Regions from separate parts of the Homo sapiens genome. Here region 2 is linked to region 1. The links come from fine-mapping of genetic effects on gene expression. A gene starts in region 1. The other region holds a variant in brackets. All regions are shown on one strand. Distances are between the middles of the regions.

Region 1 (8,511 bases):
GTGGCTCCCACAGCTGCCACTCCCATCCTATTTCAGGCCACCATCATTGCTCAACTTCTGCAAAGACCTCCTAAAGCTGGTCTTCCTGCTTCCACTCTCGCCCCCTACAGCCCATTCTTCACATGGCAGCCAAAATTATCTCAGAAATAAATCTGATTATTTCTGTACTGAAAATTTACCATGTCTTACCATGGCCCTACAAGGCTTGGCCCCCGCATTCCTTCTCTTATCTTCTCTCACCCTGCTCTTCCTAACCACTTACAACGATCCAACCAAGTGATCTCTTCTGTTCCTCAAACATGCCTACCTGCGGGGTCTTGGCACCTGTTCTCTCTGCCTAGAATGGCTATTCCTCCAACTCTACACATACCTGATTTTTTTTTTTCATTCTTTAAGCCTCAACTCACATGTCCTCTCACAGAGAAGCCTTTCCCAACCACCTGCTCTAGAGAGGCCTCCTCCATCTTCTTGTTTATGTATTTGTTTATTATCTATCTCCCCAAGTAGAAGACACCTTATCTGCTTGTTCATTACAGTAATCTCAGCACCTGAAACTGCCTGATATACATTTGACAATCAAGAAAGATTTGCTGAGTGGGTGAATAGGTCTGGCCCACAAGGCCCTTGGGGATCTGCTGCCCCCGTTAGCCCTCCCCCGACTCTAGCCACACTGACCATTCATGTCTCGAACATAACATGCTCTCTCCTAGGGCCTATACACATGGTGTTCTCTCTGCCTAGTTAATTCTGGTCTCCACTTAAAAGACCACTTCCTTCCCTGAACTCCTGAGAAAAAAGGTCTCCACACTATACGTTTCTTCAGCAGCCTGAATGCCTTCACACTCAGGCCTTATTTCCTTCACATCAGGCCTTGCTAGGCTGTAAGCTGCGCTAGGACAAGGTTTGTGTGTCTCTCTTGCTTGTTGCTGTAACCCCAGGGCCTCACCCAGAGTCAGGACCAGCTCAGGCCTTAGTGTTTATGAACTGGTGCTAACTGTGGAGACTGGGCACGTGCCCAAAGAGGTCACCACCACAGAGCAGCCCAGGCCAAGCACAGAATGAATAGTACAGTCTAGTTGTAAAGAAGTTTGGTATGAGGATGGCCATGGGTGGGGATATGAGGAAGGATTTAGGTAAACAGGGAGAAGCCAGGAGGATTTTCTGGCCATGGCGCAAATTCCTTAGGGCAGAATGTACTGGGCATATTTAGGTAAGAAACAGATCAGCATCACTGGAGTGAAGAATTCCTGAAAAGGAGGCGGGAGATAAGAGAAAACAAAGGTTGAGGCGATGTTGTTGAAGTTCCTGAAGACCTAGCTTACTTCTCTGTGCCAGACCTGAGTTCAACCACCTTTTGGGTCTCCATCAGCTGATCCCACAGTAACCTCAATATATCCCAGACTGAAGTCATCCTGTGTCCTCCCATGTCCTCCCCTGAGTTCCCCATCCTAGTAAAGGTGTTTTCAAGACCTCCCTCTCCTTTCCTCCACACACCTCAATCAGTAACAAAAACCTACTGCTTTTGCCAGGCCCAGTGGTTTATGCCTGTAATCCCAGCATTTGGGAGGCTGAGGCAGGCGGATCTCCTGAGGTCAGAAGTTCGAGACCAGCCTGGCCAACATGGTGCAACCCTGTCTGTACTAAAAATACAAAACTAAAATTAGCCGAGCGTGGTGGCGTGCGCCAGTAATCCCAGCTATTCAGGAGGCTGAGGCATGAGAATCACTTGAACCCGGGACGCAGAAGTTGCCGTGAGCTGAGATTGCACCTGAGTGACAGAGCAAAATGCTGTCTAAAAAAACAAAACAAAACAAAACAAAAAACCTACTGCTTCTAAATTATTCTCCAGACCATACTCCAGCATGATCCACTAAAAATATAAGTCTGGTGAATGATTCCCCTTGAGGACTCCTCACAGCTTACAGGCTAAAGCCCACAAACTTTTCAACACCTACTTTGCTTTGTCCTGTATTATCCAGCCTGCTCACCTCCTGCTGCTCTGCCACCCACTCCTCTGTTCCAGCTTGATCCATGCTTCTGAAGCTTCCAGTTGGGGATGTCCAATGCCTTCTTGGCCTACCTTCACCTGGTTCATCTCCCTCTATAAGAAGTTTTTCTTTTTCTTCTTTTTTGTTTTGTTTTGAGACGGAGTCTCGCTCAGTTGCCCAGGCTGGAGTGCAGTGGCGCAATCTCAGCTCACTGCAACCTCCGCCTCCCGGGTTCAAGCGATTCTCCTGCCCAAGCCTCCCGAGTAGCTGGATTACTACTATTGCCTAAGCCTCCCGAGTAGCTCCTGGGATTACAGGAGCCCGCCACCACGCCCAGCTAATTTTTGCATTTTTGCAGGCTGGTCTCGAACTCCTGGCCTCCCAAAGTGCTGGGATTACAGGCCTGGGCCACCGCACCCTGCCCAAGAAGCCTTTCTTGACCAACTCTCTTACATCATTTGATGTCTCCTTTTGTCTACCTCTGTTTTCTCTCTGTTGTTTTCCTCACACTGTTTTGCAATTATTATCCTACCTATCTATCCACAAGACAGTGAACTTCTTGAAGAAGCACAACTGTCTTATATCATCTTTTATCCCAGCACCTGGAGCACCGTGAGAATAACAGCTAAGATTTACCAAGCACTTACACAGAGCTAAGAGTTTCACATGCACTGACTTGTTAATCACTACAGCAACGCAAGGAGATAGGACTATCATTATGCCCACTGACAACAGAGGAAACTGAGGCACAGGAAACTCATTTGCTAGGCCCAACGATTTAAATTCAAATCAGACGCCTGATCTGAACTACTCTGGAATATCGCCTCAATAAATGTTTGCTGTTTCTCGGGAGAAATCGGTGAGAAAAAAATAAGTATTTGCTGAAAACTAAAAACCAAAGATGGCTCCAAGTATGTGATTACAGACTATCCTCCTTTTTAATCTTATCTCTTGAGGGGAGAGGGCTGTCACACAACCGTTCCAGGACACCACACACAGAGTAACCGAGATGAAAGCGCCAATCCAGCCATCCACCGCGGCTGGGAAAAGGCCTGTCCCTTCCTAAGGTAAAGAGGGACTGAGAGCGTGAGCACAGGGACACGCTGCACCCAGGGGAACAGCACTGGGTCGGGGGAAGGATCTGGCCAGTGACAAGGAGGCTGTCTGGAGGGGTGGGGGTCCAGCGTGGGTTCCGGAAGCAGGAAAGGCGAGCAGGTGTGGGATCTAAATTAGGACGAGGGGCGGGGAGGGCGCTCCGCGCAGAAGGGCGCAGCTCGGCCTCCGACCTCAGCAGCGGACCCTCATCTCGGCCGCTTGTTGGTCCGCAAGCCTGGAGTGGGCTGAGACCCGCCCAGAAACCGGGAGAACTGAGGCGCGGGCGAGCCCCTTAGGCTCCACAGGCTTTCCGCCCCGAGGTCCTAACTGCGCCCCACTTCAAGTCTGGCCTCTTCACAGAAGTGGCTGCACGCCTCGGGGTAAAGGGGGGAGCGGAGGGTGGCGGGGGAGAGAGCGGGGAGCCCCGAGGGAAGGGCGGGGGAGCCTGGGCCGGAAGGCGTCCCAGGCTCGGCTGGCAGCCGGCGCTCTCTTTCGACGCCACCCGCTGCCCCCGCCCCCGAGCCGGCCGGGACGGCAAAACGTCTCCGCCCCCAGCGCACCGCGCACCTCACCTTGAACGCCGCCCCACCCACCCCCATCTTATTGGTCCTCCCGGGCCGAGGCCTCCCTGCGATTGGTCGGGGAGGTCCGCGAAGGCCCCGCCCATCTCTCCGCCCCCGTCCCCGTCCGCCGGTACTTTGGACGGCGGCGTGGCGCCCCTCCTCCCCTCCCGGTCCCCGCCCCCTGGAGCAAATGCTGCCGAGCTGCGGCCGCGGGGCAGATGCACGCGCTCGGGCCCTTCTAGCAGGCGCGAGCAGTCGCTGGGCGCGCGAAAGCGAAAGAAGGAAGAGGAAGGGAGGGGGAGGGCGGGGTGTTGGGGAGGGGCGGGAGGAGGAAGAGGAGGAGGTTGGAGCGCGCTCGCGCTTGGCCTCGCGCCCGCGCAGAGGGAGGGGGAGAGGGGCGCGCGCGCGCACGCTCGCGTTCACGCTCGCTCCATCCATCCATCCTCCGGTCGCGGCACACGCGCGCGCGCTCCGGGCTCGCGCCGCACCCCCCGCCCGGGAGAGGCGGGCTGGAGTGGGGGGCGGGGGGAGGGGCGCGCGGACGGCGCGCGGACTGCGCGCGGGCGGGGTGAGGTGAGGAGGAGGAGGCGGCGACGGGACAAGAAGGGAGGGGAAGGGGCCATGGCCGCCCGGTGAGGCGGCCAGGCGGGGGGGCGGCCCGACCCCCCGGCCCCGGGCCCTGGGCCCCGGGGAGAGGCGAGGACGGACCGACGGACATGGGGCTCCGGAGCAGCCGCCGCCGTCGCCGCCGCCGGAGGACGCGGCCCTGAGAGGCTGCCGGGCCCCGGCGCGGCCCCCCGGGCGGGGTGAGTACGGGACGGAGACGGGGACGGGGACGGGGGAGGGGCCTGTGGGGGGCGGGGGGCGGGGCCCAAGGCGGGGCTTGGGCCCCCTCCCCCCAGGTCTGGGTCAGCGCCCCTTCCCCTCCCCCCGGGCCGACGCGGAAACGCCCGGCTTCCCCCAGCTTCCCGGCCGGGCCGGGGCCCCTGGCTCTCCCCCGTCTGGGTCCCCCTTGGGCGGGGCAGGGCCGGCCGGGGAGGGGGCGCGGGGCCTTTGTTAGGGAGCCAGGCCCCAGCCCCCGGGACAATAGAGACACCCTCCCGGACTCCTCTCCCCGGCCGGCCGGGGCTGCTGGCGGGCGGGGAAGGAGAGGGGCTGGGACGCGTCCCACTCTCTGGGGGTCGGTCTGTCCCGGCCCGGCGCCGGCCCCGGCGGCTCGGCTGTCCTCCCCCCAGTCGGTATGATGCAGCAGCAGTGCCGCAGGGACGGGGGAAGAGCCGAGGCCCGGCCTCCTACCCTTCCCAGTGCCCCCGGCTCATTCGTCAGTCCCCACCCCACTCTAGGCCGGCAGCTCCTGAAACTCGTACCCACCGTTCCGAGGGGCCCTGGGTTGTGGGTTCTGTGTCTGAATCCTTGGGTGGGGGTTCCTGGACTTTGGGGCTCTTGGAGAGACTTCCGGGCTGGTCCTGAGGGAGGGCGGGTGGTTATTTAAAGGAAGAACAGGTAAGGGGAGTGCCCGCTCCTGGCGTGCCACCCTACCAGGCTCTTCCCCCCCACCCCCCGCCGTTCCTGCTCATGGTGGCTAGAAATGTCCCTTAGCTCTAGGCTCCTGTGGGCTCTGCTCCCCTCGTGGAGTGGCAGGCTGATTTCAAGGGAAGACAGAGTGGGGTGAAGGTTGTAGGGTCCTAGGGCCATTTCTACTTCTGGTAGCAGTACCCCCCCAAGTGGACATCCTGGCTGAAAGCAGAGGTGACTCTGAGGAGAGTCTTTAGGGAAGGCGGGGGGTGTATTTAGGAGTCTGTGCAGTTCTTTGCCACACCCTGTGGGTTTGCTTTGAGGCCTTGGAGTTCCTTCTCCTCCCCCTGCTGCATTGCACCATGGGTATCAAAGAGGGGTTTGAGTTTTGGGGACCTAGGGTGAGCTGCTGCCTCCTATAGACCCAGACTCTGATTGGCAGTGGAGTCCAGGGCCTGAGCTCAGGCCTGGGAAAGACTAGGCCCCCTTTAGGTTTCAGGCCTTGAAGGACCATCCAGACTTAGGGAGCCTGGGCCTTGGGGAGGGAGAGACCCTGATGCCAGGACTGAGCTTTGGGCAGCGAGGTGGGGAGGGAAGGTGGCCGCATTCAGAGGTGCCTTGGACTCACAACAACACCCCCACCCCCGTGTGTGCAGCCGTGTTGCCGCCCGCTGTGCTATGAGCAGTCAGAGCGCCGTCTCCACAAGAGTTTACAAATGAAAATGGAGGAAATGTCTTTGTCTGGCCTGGATAACAGCAAACTAGAGGTGAGGGCTCCCCCACGTGTGCCTCCAGTTCTTTCTCTTGATGTCTCTACGTCGCTGTATCTGGCATCCACACCAAAGAGGAATTTGGGTAGTCAGCCTTGTTCCTTAAAGGGAATAGCCAGCTGAAAAAGCCAAGGATCCAGGAAGAAGAAAGAACACGAAGTCAAGATGGGGAAAATGGCAAAGAAAGCATGATTTTTGGCTGGGGCCAGTTGGCAGCAGATTTGGTTGGTGAGAGTCCAGGGGGCTGTGACTCTTGTGACCGTAGATGTTCTCCCCTGGGGCCCAGGCCATCGCTCAGGAGATATACGCGGACCTGGTCGAGGATTCTTGTTTGGGATTCTGCTTTGAGGTACACCGGGCTGTCAAGTGTGGCTACTTCTTCTTGGACGACACGGACCCTGATAGCATGAAGGATTTTGGTGAGCTTCAGGGTGAAGGAGCAGCAGTCCAGCCCTTCCCTGGGACTGCCTGGAGTTTCCTTCTCTGGAAACTGTGCTAGATGTAGCACCTGGAGCTCCTGTGAGCCGGGGGAGGGATTGAAGAGGCCGTGGGACCCCAGGTGGGAACAAGAGGAGAGGGTCCTGCCCACCCTGATCGCCAGCCTCTCCTGTCCCCAGAGATCGTGGACCAGCCGGGCTTGGACATCTTTGGACAGGTTTTCAACCAGTGGAAGAGCAAGGAGTGTGTTTGCCCCAATTGCAGTCGCAGCATTGCCGCCTCCCGCTTTGCTCCCCATCTGGAGAAGTGCCTGGGAATGGGTCGGAACAGCAGCCGAATCGCCAACCGCCGGTGAGGGAACCAGAGCTGCCCGTTCTCTGCAGCCTGTGCCATGGTGTAGTCCCCCGGGGGCATTGGGAAGGTACAGAGGGTGGGTTTTACTTGGCCCCAGATGCTCCACCTGCTTCTGAAGTTGGGGGCAGAGCGGGGTGACCACCTTGACCCCTTTCTCTTCCTTCCCCTTGGCCCCTTTCTCTTCCCTCCCCTTGGCAGGATTGCCAATAGCAACAATATGAATAAGTCTGAGAGTGACCAAGAAGATAATGATGACATCAATGACAACGACTGGTCCTATGGCTCGGAGAAGAAAGGTGCTTGGGGATCTGGGGAAACCCGGGGGGCATTGGGATGAGGTGGGAAGCAGGAATTGGGTATACAGTGGTCACAAATTGTTGCCTTGAATGATGAAGAGAGAGTGTAGTTACGCGATTTCCTTTTCCTTTTTTTTTTTTTTTTTTTTTTGAGATGGATTCTCGCTCTGTGGCCCAGGCTGGGGTGCAGTGGTGAGATCTCGGCTCACTGCAACCTCCGTCTCCCGGGTTCAAGCGATTCTCCTGTGTCAGCCTCCTGAGTAGCTGGGATTACAGTCGCGTGCTACCATGCCCAGCTAATTTTTGTATTTTTAGTAGAGATGGGGTTTCACCATATTGGCCAGGATGGTCTCGATCTTCTGACCTCGTGATCTGCCCGCCTGGGCCTCCCAAAGTGCTGGGATTACAGGCATGAGCCACCGTGCCCAGCCTGTTGTATGGTTTTCTTGAGATGCTTTTAGATTGAGAACTTAACGGAAACCCTGCTCTTTATGCTTTTGTTTCCCACAGCCAAGAAGAGAAAGTCAGACAAGGTGAGAGCCGGGCCAGGCATTGGGGAAATAATGGGTAAAGGACAGATACCCTCCCCTTTGGGCAGGGAGTCCTCGAGTGTCATGACTCAAGGCTGAGGTCATTGGGGGCTTGAGGGTGTCTTTGGTGGGTCCGGGGCGGGGGAGTGTGGGTGGGGAAGGGGGGTGGGGGAGGGCACATGGGTAGACAGGCCTCCTACTGGGGAGGAAGAGTAGGAATTTGAGGATGCTGCTTTGTCAAATCTTTTTTCCTTCCCTGGGTTCTCGGCTCCCCCTTTTCGTTACCCTTTCCCCAAAGCTATGGTATCTCCCATTCCAGAACCCCAATTCCCCTCGAAGATCCAAGTCATTAAAACACAAAAATGGTAAGTGGAGCCGGAGCAATGGGAATGCTTCTAGCTGTGTCTTCTGGGACTCATTGCCGGGGGGTGGAGGTGGGGCCCGGGGATAGGGGAATTGAGGGAGGGCCTGTGATCCTTCTGTCACCCCCACTTCCTCTCTGGTTATTTTCAGGGTTCTCTGTCTGTACCTCTGCATCAAACACCCTTCCCCTTCTTTTTTCTTCTTCAGGGGAACTTAGCAATTCGGATCCTTTTAAGGTGAGTATGGGCCGCCCCTCATGCTTGCTCTCATTGTCCTGGTTGTGAGGTGGTGGGGATTTGGACAAGTAGGGATCAGAATGCTGACAGCCAGAGGCACTGATGAGCTATTTGGATCTTACATATTTATGTTCTTTCTGAGTCCCACCCCTTATCCATTGGCAGATGGGATGAGAGAAATCACTTGGAAAACGGCAGGGTCGTTCTAAAGCCTCACTTAGAAAGGGACCAGAGGGACTGATTCTCACTTCCACCCCTGTCCTTCTCTTTTCTCTGCCCCATCTCTAACCTGTACCTCTGGTTGTCCTGCAGTATAACAATTCAACTGGGATCAGCTATGAGACCCTGGGGCCGGAGGAGCTT
Region 2 (8,000 bases), 58 kb before region 1:
CTCCCTGGCTGAATCCCGGGTGTCCTCGACAAGGCTCAGATAGGGAGCCCAAGGCTAGGCCCAGCACACAAGTGTGGGGAGCCTCATTCTGCTGAGTGGCCAGTGTGGGATGCGGCACCAGAGACCCAGCCCAGGGCACTGGGAAGGAGGGGCATCTGCCCATGCCTGGGTCTCTGAGGCTCACAGTGGATGGTGAAGAGCCTCAGGTGGGGGACGGTCAGGTCAATACTAACCGACCTCTGGTTTTCAGCTCACGACACCGAGGCAACAGCCACAGACTACCACACCACATCACACCCGGGTACCCACAAGGTGAGGACCCCAGCCTCCTCCGTTCTTTCCCATGCTGCCTTTGGGACCCACCATTTGATCAGGGAAGAGAGGAGCAAGGGGATAGAGGCAGCTTCAGGCTGGGGGAGACCCTGCAGCAGATAGAGGAGTGAGGATCCCAGGAAACAGGTGGGAGGGACGCCCCACTGATGGGGAGGCCTGGGCCCCTTTCCAGGAGCACCCTGGGCAGAGATAACCTGATTGACAAGGGCTGAGTCCCCAGGCCCTCAGGCCCTGGCTGGGCTGTCGGGCGTCACTGGGGAAGCACAGAATTAAAGACTTGTTCTCCTCTGCCCAGGCCCCTCAGGTCCCCACTGGGCACTGAACTGTCTAAGTGGTTAGAAATTTGGGGTGGCCCTCAGCTATGGCCCTTGGAGCAACCACCTGGCCTCAGGGACATGCTAAAGCACATCCACGAACAATCTTAGAGGCTGGAGACTGACCCAATGACTCCAAAGTCCCCTTTAGCTTCGGCCCGCCAGGCCTCTGCTTCCCACTCCTTTCCCTCCCCAGTGGCCTCTCCAGCATCCCTTTGGGTCAGGGTTCTCCAAATGCCTTCTGCAATGGGGTAAAGGCCTGGCCAGGAAGTTGGGAGATAAGGGAGTGGTGTGAGCCGTATCTACGGACCCTTGAGCACAGGGATCCAAGCCTCACAAGCACAAGCCTCTCTCGAGAGTGGCTGAGCACCCACTATGCCCTGGACTATGCCTGATGAACTAACTCAGGCGCATGGGGCCACAGGTCTATGTGGAGCTGCAGGAGCTGGTGATGGACGAAAAGAACCAGGAGCTGAGATGGATGGAGGCGGCGCGCTGGGTGCAACTGGAGGAGAACCTGGGGGAGAATGGGGCCTGGGGCCGCCCGCACCTCTCTCACCTCACCTTCTGGAGCCTCCTAGAGCTGCGTAGAGTCTTCACCAAGGGTGAGCCTCCTGGGCCCTTCTGGACCCCCTGCAGATGAGGATTGTTGTGGGGTGCTGTGGCCCAGCCTACCAGCTCACTCCTCCACTGCCTGCAGGTACTGTCCTCCTAGACCTGCAAGAGACCTCCCTGGCTGGAGTGGCCAACCAACTGCTAGACAGGTTTATCTTTGAAGACCAGATCCGGCCTCAGGACCGAGAGGAGCTGCTCCGGGCCCTGCTGCTTAAACACAGGTGCCCCTGCCTGCCAGGGCCTGGATTCCATATCCAGTGGGCCCACTTCCCCAGCCCACTTGCCCCAAGTTCTCCCCCGGGATCCAGGTGGCCCTACCCTCACCAGGCAGGGGCCCACTTTCCTCCACTATGGCTCCCATCTCTGACACCTTGAAAGGGGTGGCCATGTCCTATGCTCAGAGTTGGGGGCTGTTGGTCCCCAGGAGGGCAGACCTGCAAGGCCCTTTTCTGTAGCCACTCTTGATCCCGCCTCGTCATTCCAGAGGCCACCCACTTACATCTACAACGTCCTTGGAGAGGAGGCTCTGATTCTCCTTCCATCCCAGGGTCTCTCTGGTCTGGTCTGGGAAGTCCCAGATGTCTACCCTTGATGTCTACCCCAGTCCCTTGATGTTCGCCCTTGATCCCTCCCACCACTGATAGCTCAGCCTGAACAGCTTACTCAGCCCATGTCCCCTGTACGTCCTGCAGCCACGCTGGAGAGCTGGAGGCCCTGGGGGGTGTGAAGCCTGCAGTCCTGACACGCTCTGGGGATCCTTCACAGCCTCTGCTCCCCCAACACTCCTCACTGGAGACACAGCTCTTCTGTGAGCAGGTGAGTCAGTTACAGGGTCAGGGTCAGGGTCAGGGTGGGGCAAGGAGAGAGCTTTCTCAAACGCCAGCAGGGGTCCTGAAAAACCGACCACAAGCAGGGGACCAGAAGCACTCCTGTGCCCGGGGGGTGCCAGGAGAGTTGGGAAGCGAGAATGGGAAGGGGAGGATGCTCAGGTCTCCCAGGTCAGACTGGCCCGAGGACTCCCGTCACCACCCTCCTTCCCACAGGGAGATGGGGGCACAGAAGGGCACTCACCATCTGGAATTCTGGAAAAGATTCCCCCGGATTCAGAGGCCACGTTGGTGCTAGTGGGTAAGAACAGGCATCTCTACCCTCAGCCCTCCACACCCCTCGTGTCTTGGCTCAGCCTGTCTTTCCCTCAGCCTGGACCCCCGCAGCCCCATCTCTTCAGCACACCCACCCTGGGCTCCTCGGCCTGGCCTGATCTTCTCATCCCCTAACAGGCCGCGCCGACTTCCTGGAGCAGCCGGTGCTGGGCTTCGTGAGGCTGCAGGAGGCAGCGGAGCTGGAGGCGGTGGAGCTGCCGGTGCCTATACGCTTCCTCTTTGTGTTGCTGGGACCTGAGGCCCCCCACATCGATTACACCCAGCTTGGCCGGGCTGCTGCCACCCTCATGTCAGAGAGGGTAAGGAAGGGCCGGAGAGGGCTGGGCTGGGGAAGCTTGGGACCTGCATGGTGGCTGAGGCCTGCTCTCCAACCTGGCCTGGGTTACTTTAGGTTCACTGGTTTGACCCATTCAGCCTAATCCAGCTGCTGCTATCCTACCTGGCGGGGGCAGTCGGGGCGTGCAGTCTGGCCCTGCTCTGGCCTGGTCTCGTCTGGTTGGCTTTGGCCTGGCTTAGTCTAGTCCAGCTCACTATGACCTGGTTCCACCTGGTCAGGTCAGGCTTGGTCGGGCCTAGTCAGCTCTAGTTTCATCTAGTCTGCTTAACCCACCAGGTTAGCTTTAGTTCCTTCTCCTTTCCCCACCCAGGGCCCCCGTCTGTCTCCCCAGAGCTCTTTCTTAGTGGGGAGAGTAGGGGTGGGAGCGGGCAGGAAAAGCAGTTCCTGGCAATGGGAGCTGCTGCCTGAGGGGGTTCTGGTTCCTGGAGGCCCTGGCTGTGGACTCCTGGGTCCTTTCCCTCCGCAGGTCCGGGCAGCTCTGACCCTGTCTCCTGCCCCTAGGTGTTCCGCATAGATGCCTACATGGCTCAGAGCCGAGGGGAGCTGCTGCACTCCCTAGAGGGCTTCCTGGACTGCAGCCTAGTGCTGCCTCCCACCGATGCCCCCTCCGAGCAGGCACTGCTCAGTCTGGTGCCTGTGCAGAGGGAGCTACTTCGAAGGCGCTATCAGTCCAGCCCTGCCAAGCCAGACTCCAGCTTCTACAAGGGCCTAGGTACCTGCCCTTCCCAGCTGAGGCTTTCTGAGCCCCCACCGACCCCCAGACACCTCAGCGTAGCCTCTGTCTCCCATCACATGTTCCCCTCTCAT[C/T]GCTCCCTTTGCCCACATCTTCCAGACTTCTTCGCCGCCCCATTCCCATCAGACAATCTCCCCTACACCCTCCAGTCCCCTTTCCCCTCACCTCCTCCAGCTACTCCCTCTGACCATGCTCTTATCCTCCACCACAGACTTAAATGGGGGCCCAGATGACCCTCTGCAGCAGACAGGCCAGCTCTTCGGGGGCCTGGTGCGTGATATCCGGCGCCGCTACCCCTATTACCTGAGTGACATCACAGATGCATTCAGCCCCCAGGTCCTGGCTGCCGTCATCTTCATCTACTTTGCTGCACTGTCACCCGCCATCACCTTCGGCGGCCTCCTGGGTCAGTGCCAATACCTGTCTCCCTAACTCTTGCCTCTGACCCTCTGGCCTCTGTCTCAGCCCCAACTTCTGACTCTGTCTGACCCTCCAGACCCCTGCATCAGCCTGACCATGACTTGCTCTATGGGCTCCTGGAAATGATCTCCTGACCTTGATCCCACTGTGACCTCTACCCACAGGAGAAAAGACCCGGAACCAGATGGGAGTGTCGGAGCTGCTGATCTCCACTGCAGTGCAGGGCATTCTCTTCGCCCTGCTGGGGGCTCAGCCCCTGCTTGTGGTCGGCTTCTCAGGACCCCTGCTGGTGTTTGAGGAAGCCTTCTTCTCGGTAGTTCTGTCCTTGCCCCACTGACCCTGTCATGTCCCCCGCACCACCTGCCTGATGCATGGTGCCTTGCCCCAAGACCCTTTGACTGACCGGCTTCTTCTGACCACCCTGCAGTTCTGCGAGACCAACGGTCTAGAGTACATCGTGGGCCGCGTGTGGATCGGCTTCTGGCTCATCCTGCTGGTGGTGTTGGTGGTGGCCTTCGAGGGTAGCTTCCTGGTCCGCTTCATCTCCCGCTATACCCAGGAGATCTTCTCCTTCCTCATTTCCCTCATCTTCATCTATGAGACTTTCTCCAAGCTGATCAAGGTGGGGGCCTATGGGGATGTTAATGCACACGGGAGGTTGTGTATAAGACTGAGACAGTGGCCGGGTGCGAGGGCTCAGGCCTGTAATCTCAGAACTTTGGGAGGCCGAGGCAGGTGGATCACCCGAGATCAGGAGTTCAAGACCAGCCTGACCAACATTGTGAAACTCCATCTCTATTAAAAATACAAAAATCAGCCAGATGTGGTGGCATGCATCTGTAATCCCAGCTACTCAGGAGGCTGAGGCAGGAGAACTGCTTGAACCCGGGAGGTGGAGGTTGCAGTGAGCCGAGATTGTGCCACTACACTCCAGCCTGGGCAACAGAGCAAGAATCCGTCTCAAAAAAAAAAAAAAAAGACTGAGCCATTGTGTCCTCGCACATGTGTCTGTGCAGCATTTGTGTGTCTTTGCTTTCACCTGTGTACATAACCATGTGACTGTGCACATGACTGTGACAACATATGTGTCTGTGTCAACATATGTGTCTATGTCTGTGTAGTCACACATCTGCACACAGGACTGTGCAGCTGTGTTGACTGTGACCACATATGTGTTGGCACCTGCTGCCTGTGGCCAGCACTCTTGCTGAGGCATGAGAGGGTGCCTCTGTGTGCACATGTCCAGTTCATGACCACACATGACGTGAGCAATGGGTAGGTATGGGCATGACACTGAGCATGTGAAAGTACATGCACAGTGAGAGCTGGGGGGACTCTGGAGCCTCTGAAGTCCCCCACTCCCTCCCCTGTGCTTGTCCTCAAGAGCTGCAGGGCTTGTGGATGGAGTGCCCAGCCACCTTGGCTTGGCTCCCATCATCTTAAGCTCTGCTTGCCTTTGTACCTGCATTTTATATGGGAGAAGGGTGAGCCCTATGTGTTGTCCCCTGATTCTGTTGGATGGAGGGTCTTTCTGTGTCCAGGTCTTTTAACCCCTTGTTAGAAACTTCCCTGACCCTTGTTTCCTGACCTCCAGCCTTCTCATGTCTCCCAGGTCCTGGGTGTACATGTGTGCTCGCACACACACCCATTGCCTTCCATGGCCCTCCCTGCCTAAACCTAGGCTGTCTTCATTCCTGAAAACCAAGCTGTAGAATCCCATTTATCCTCTGTTTCCATGTCAATTGAGGAAGAAGATAGATGGATGGATGGATGAATAGATGGATAATGGATGGACGGATGGATGGATGGATGGATGGTTGGATGGATGGATGATTGATGAATGAGTGGGTGGATGATGGACGGATGAATGGATGGATAAATGGGTTGATAGATGATAGGTAGGTGGATGGATGGGTAGATGGATAATGAATGGATGGATGAATAATCAATGGATGATCAATGGATAATGGATAGATGAATGATGGATGGGTGGATAAATGGATGGATGATGAATTAATAGATGACTGGATGAATGGATAGTAGTGCTGGGTAGAGTTAGCTGGTGGTATTTTCCAGCCCAAGCCAAAGCTGGGAGAGAACAGAATGCCTTGGTTTTCTGCTGCAGATCTTCCAGGACCACCCACTACAGAAGACTTATAACTACAACGTGTTGATGGTGCCCAAACCTCAGGGCCCCCTGCCCAACACAGCCCTCCTCTCCCTTGTGCTCATGGCCGGTACCTTCTTCTTTGCCATGATGCTGCGCAAGTTCAAGAACAGCTCCTATTTCCCTGGCAAGGTCAGCATACCCTCCTCGCCTGTCCTTGCCAACACTGCCCTATCCCAGCCCAAAGCCCCCCCGCTCCAAATTCCTCAGTGCCCTTAGCTTCCCTTCTTTTTCAGATTCCCATTCCCAATTCCAACCTCCCCTGGCCCTATCCTTACCTAGGGTTTCACTCTATGGGCAAGCCCCTCCCACTTTCATGGCATGCCCAGCCTGAGAACTGCTGGGGGAAGAAGAAAGGAGGCAGACATAGCTGAGGTGCAGGACAGGGCATTAGATGCTGATGGATCCCCTGGAAGAGCAGGGCCCCGTGGGTGAATATAGGGCAGGAGGAAGGCAGGAGGTGGGGAGTGACTGGGCACTGACCACTGGTCCTTTCACCTGCCCCCAGCTGCGTCGGGTCATCGGGGACTTCGGGGTCCCCATCTCCATCCTGATCATGGTCCTGGTGGATTTCTTCATTCAGGATACCTACACCCAGGTGACCCCTCCTCCCAGCCCTCAGACCATGATACCCCCCAGGTCCTCATTTCCACCCCCCAGCATGCCCCTTCCCTAGAATAGCTTTCCCCAACCTGAAGCCAGCTGGGACTACCTCTACCCCATCCCTGCCTCCTCTGGGAGTCCCATGTGCTTCTCACAGCCCCAGAGGACCCCTGTGGCCAAAGCAAGGTGCTGGGCCAGGTTGCCACCTTCATTCCTTAACCCAGAGCAGTAGGAAGAAGTATTCTTTGGAGCCAGGCAGATCTAGGCATGAATCCCAGCTCTGCCATCAAATAGCTGTGTGATGTGGGGCAAGCTACATAACCTCTCTGATTCTCTTTCCTCATCTTTAAAGTGGGGAACGAGCAGATGGATGTAAAGGGATTAGTGTAATGATTAGGTACAGAGCAAGTGCTCAATATAAGTAAGTTCCCAAGTGCCTCCAACCTAACTGCCCGACCCCTAGGACCCTGGCTCCTCCTGCTCCCACCCTTCCCCATCCTCCTGCCCTTGGCATTCTTACCTGCTACCCCCTCCCACAGAAACTCTCGGTGCCTGATGGCTTCAAGGTGTCCAACTCCTCAGCCCGGGGCTGGGTCATCCACCCACTGGGCTTGCGTTCCGAGTTTCCCATCTGGATGATGTTTGCCTCCGCCCTGCCTGCTCTGCTGGTCTTCATCCTCATATTCCTGGAGTCTCAGATCACCACGTGAGAGACAGGGTGGGGGCTGGGCCTGGGAGGGTGGGAGGCAGGGACCTTTCCCTGGCATTCTCCCAGGCAGGCAAGAGACCCAGGACTGCAAGCTAGTCCCTGCGGGTGTGTGGCCCTCCCGACTAGCAGGAATAGTGAAAAGCCAGGGGCAGTTCCAGGTTTTGTGGGACCAGAAGTTGTATAATTTGGAGAGCTCTTTTTAAGAAAAAAAAAACGTGGCCGGGCGCGGTGGCTCACGCCCGTAATCCCAACAGTTTGAGAGGCCGAGGCGGGCAGATCACCTGAGGTCAGGAGTTCGAGACCAGCTTGGCTAACATGGTGAAGCCCTGTTTCTACTAAAAATACAAAAAATTAGGCGGGCATGGTGGCACGAGCCTGTAATCTCAGCTACTTGGGAGGCTGAGGCAGGAGAATCGCTTGAACCCGGGAGGCGGAGGTTGCAGTGAGCCGAGATCTCGCCATTGCACTCCAACTTGGGCAACGAGAGTGAAACTCCATCTCAAAAAAAAAAAAAAAAAAAAAGCGCCAGGTGAGGTGGCTCACATCTGTAATCCTAGCACTTTGGGAAGCCAAGACGGGGGGATCACGAGGTCAGTAGTTTGAGAC

Evidence for each region. PIP is the estimated chance that this variant, and not a neighbour inherited with it, causes the effect.
Region 2: its variant is fine-mapped to the expression of ATXN7L3-AS1 in whole blood (INTERVAL, PIP 0.97).

The regions. Positions count from the first base shown.
Region 1 is chr17:44,195,437-44,203,947 of GRCh38, reverse strand. It overlaps ATXN7L3-AS1 (ATXN7L3 antisense RNA 1), which reads right to left and starts at 5,108. Exons shown (of 2, transcript NR_184071.1): 1 at 5,018-5,108. ATXN7L3 (ataxin 7 like 3) reads left to right here and starts at 4,064. Exons shown (of 13, transcript NM_001382309.1): 1 at 4,064-4,452; 2 at 5,818-5,928; 3 at 6,218-6,350; 4 at 6,549-6,720; 5 at 6,922-7,019; 6 at 7,530-7,552; 7 at 7,869-7,914; 8 at 8,120-8,148; 9 at 8,461-8,511. The coding sequence starts at 5,878. RefSeq lists enhancers at 2,685-3,222, 3,223-3,761, 4,487-5,042, 5,393-5,687, 5,247-6,169 and 1 more and silencers at 3,416-4,215, 4,316-4,925.
Region 2 is chr17:44,253,887-44,261,886 of GRCh38, reverse strand. It overlaps SLC4A1 (solute carrier family 4 member 1 (Diego blood group)), which reads left to right. Exons shown (of 20, transcript NM_000342.4): 4 at 251-312; 5 at 1,072-1,252; 6 at 1,348-1,483; 7 at 1,955-2,078; 8 at 2,306-2,390; 9 at 2,543-2,724; 10 at 3,264-3,474; 11 at 3,707-3,901; 12 at 4,080-4,228; 13 at 4,343-4,537; 14 at 6,041-6,214; 15 at 6,591-6,680; 16 at 7,225-7,391. Among named protein-coding and RNA genes, the nearest start is that of SLC4A1, 10 kb to the left of the region's middle. RefSeq lists an enhancer at 3,857-4,813. The variant C/T (reference allele first, on the strand shown) is at 3,570.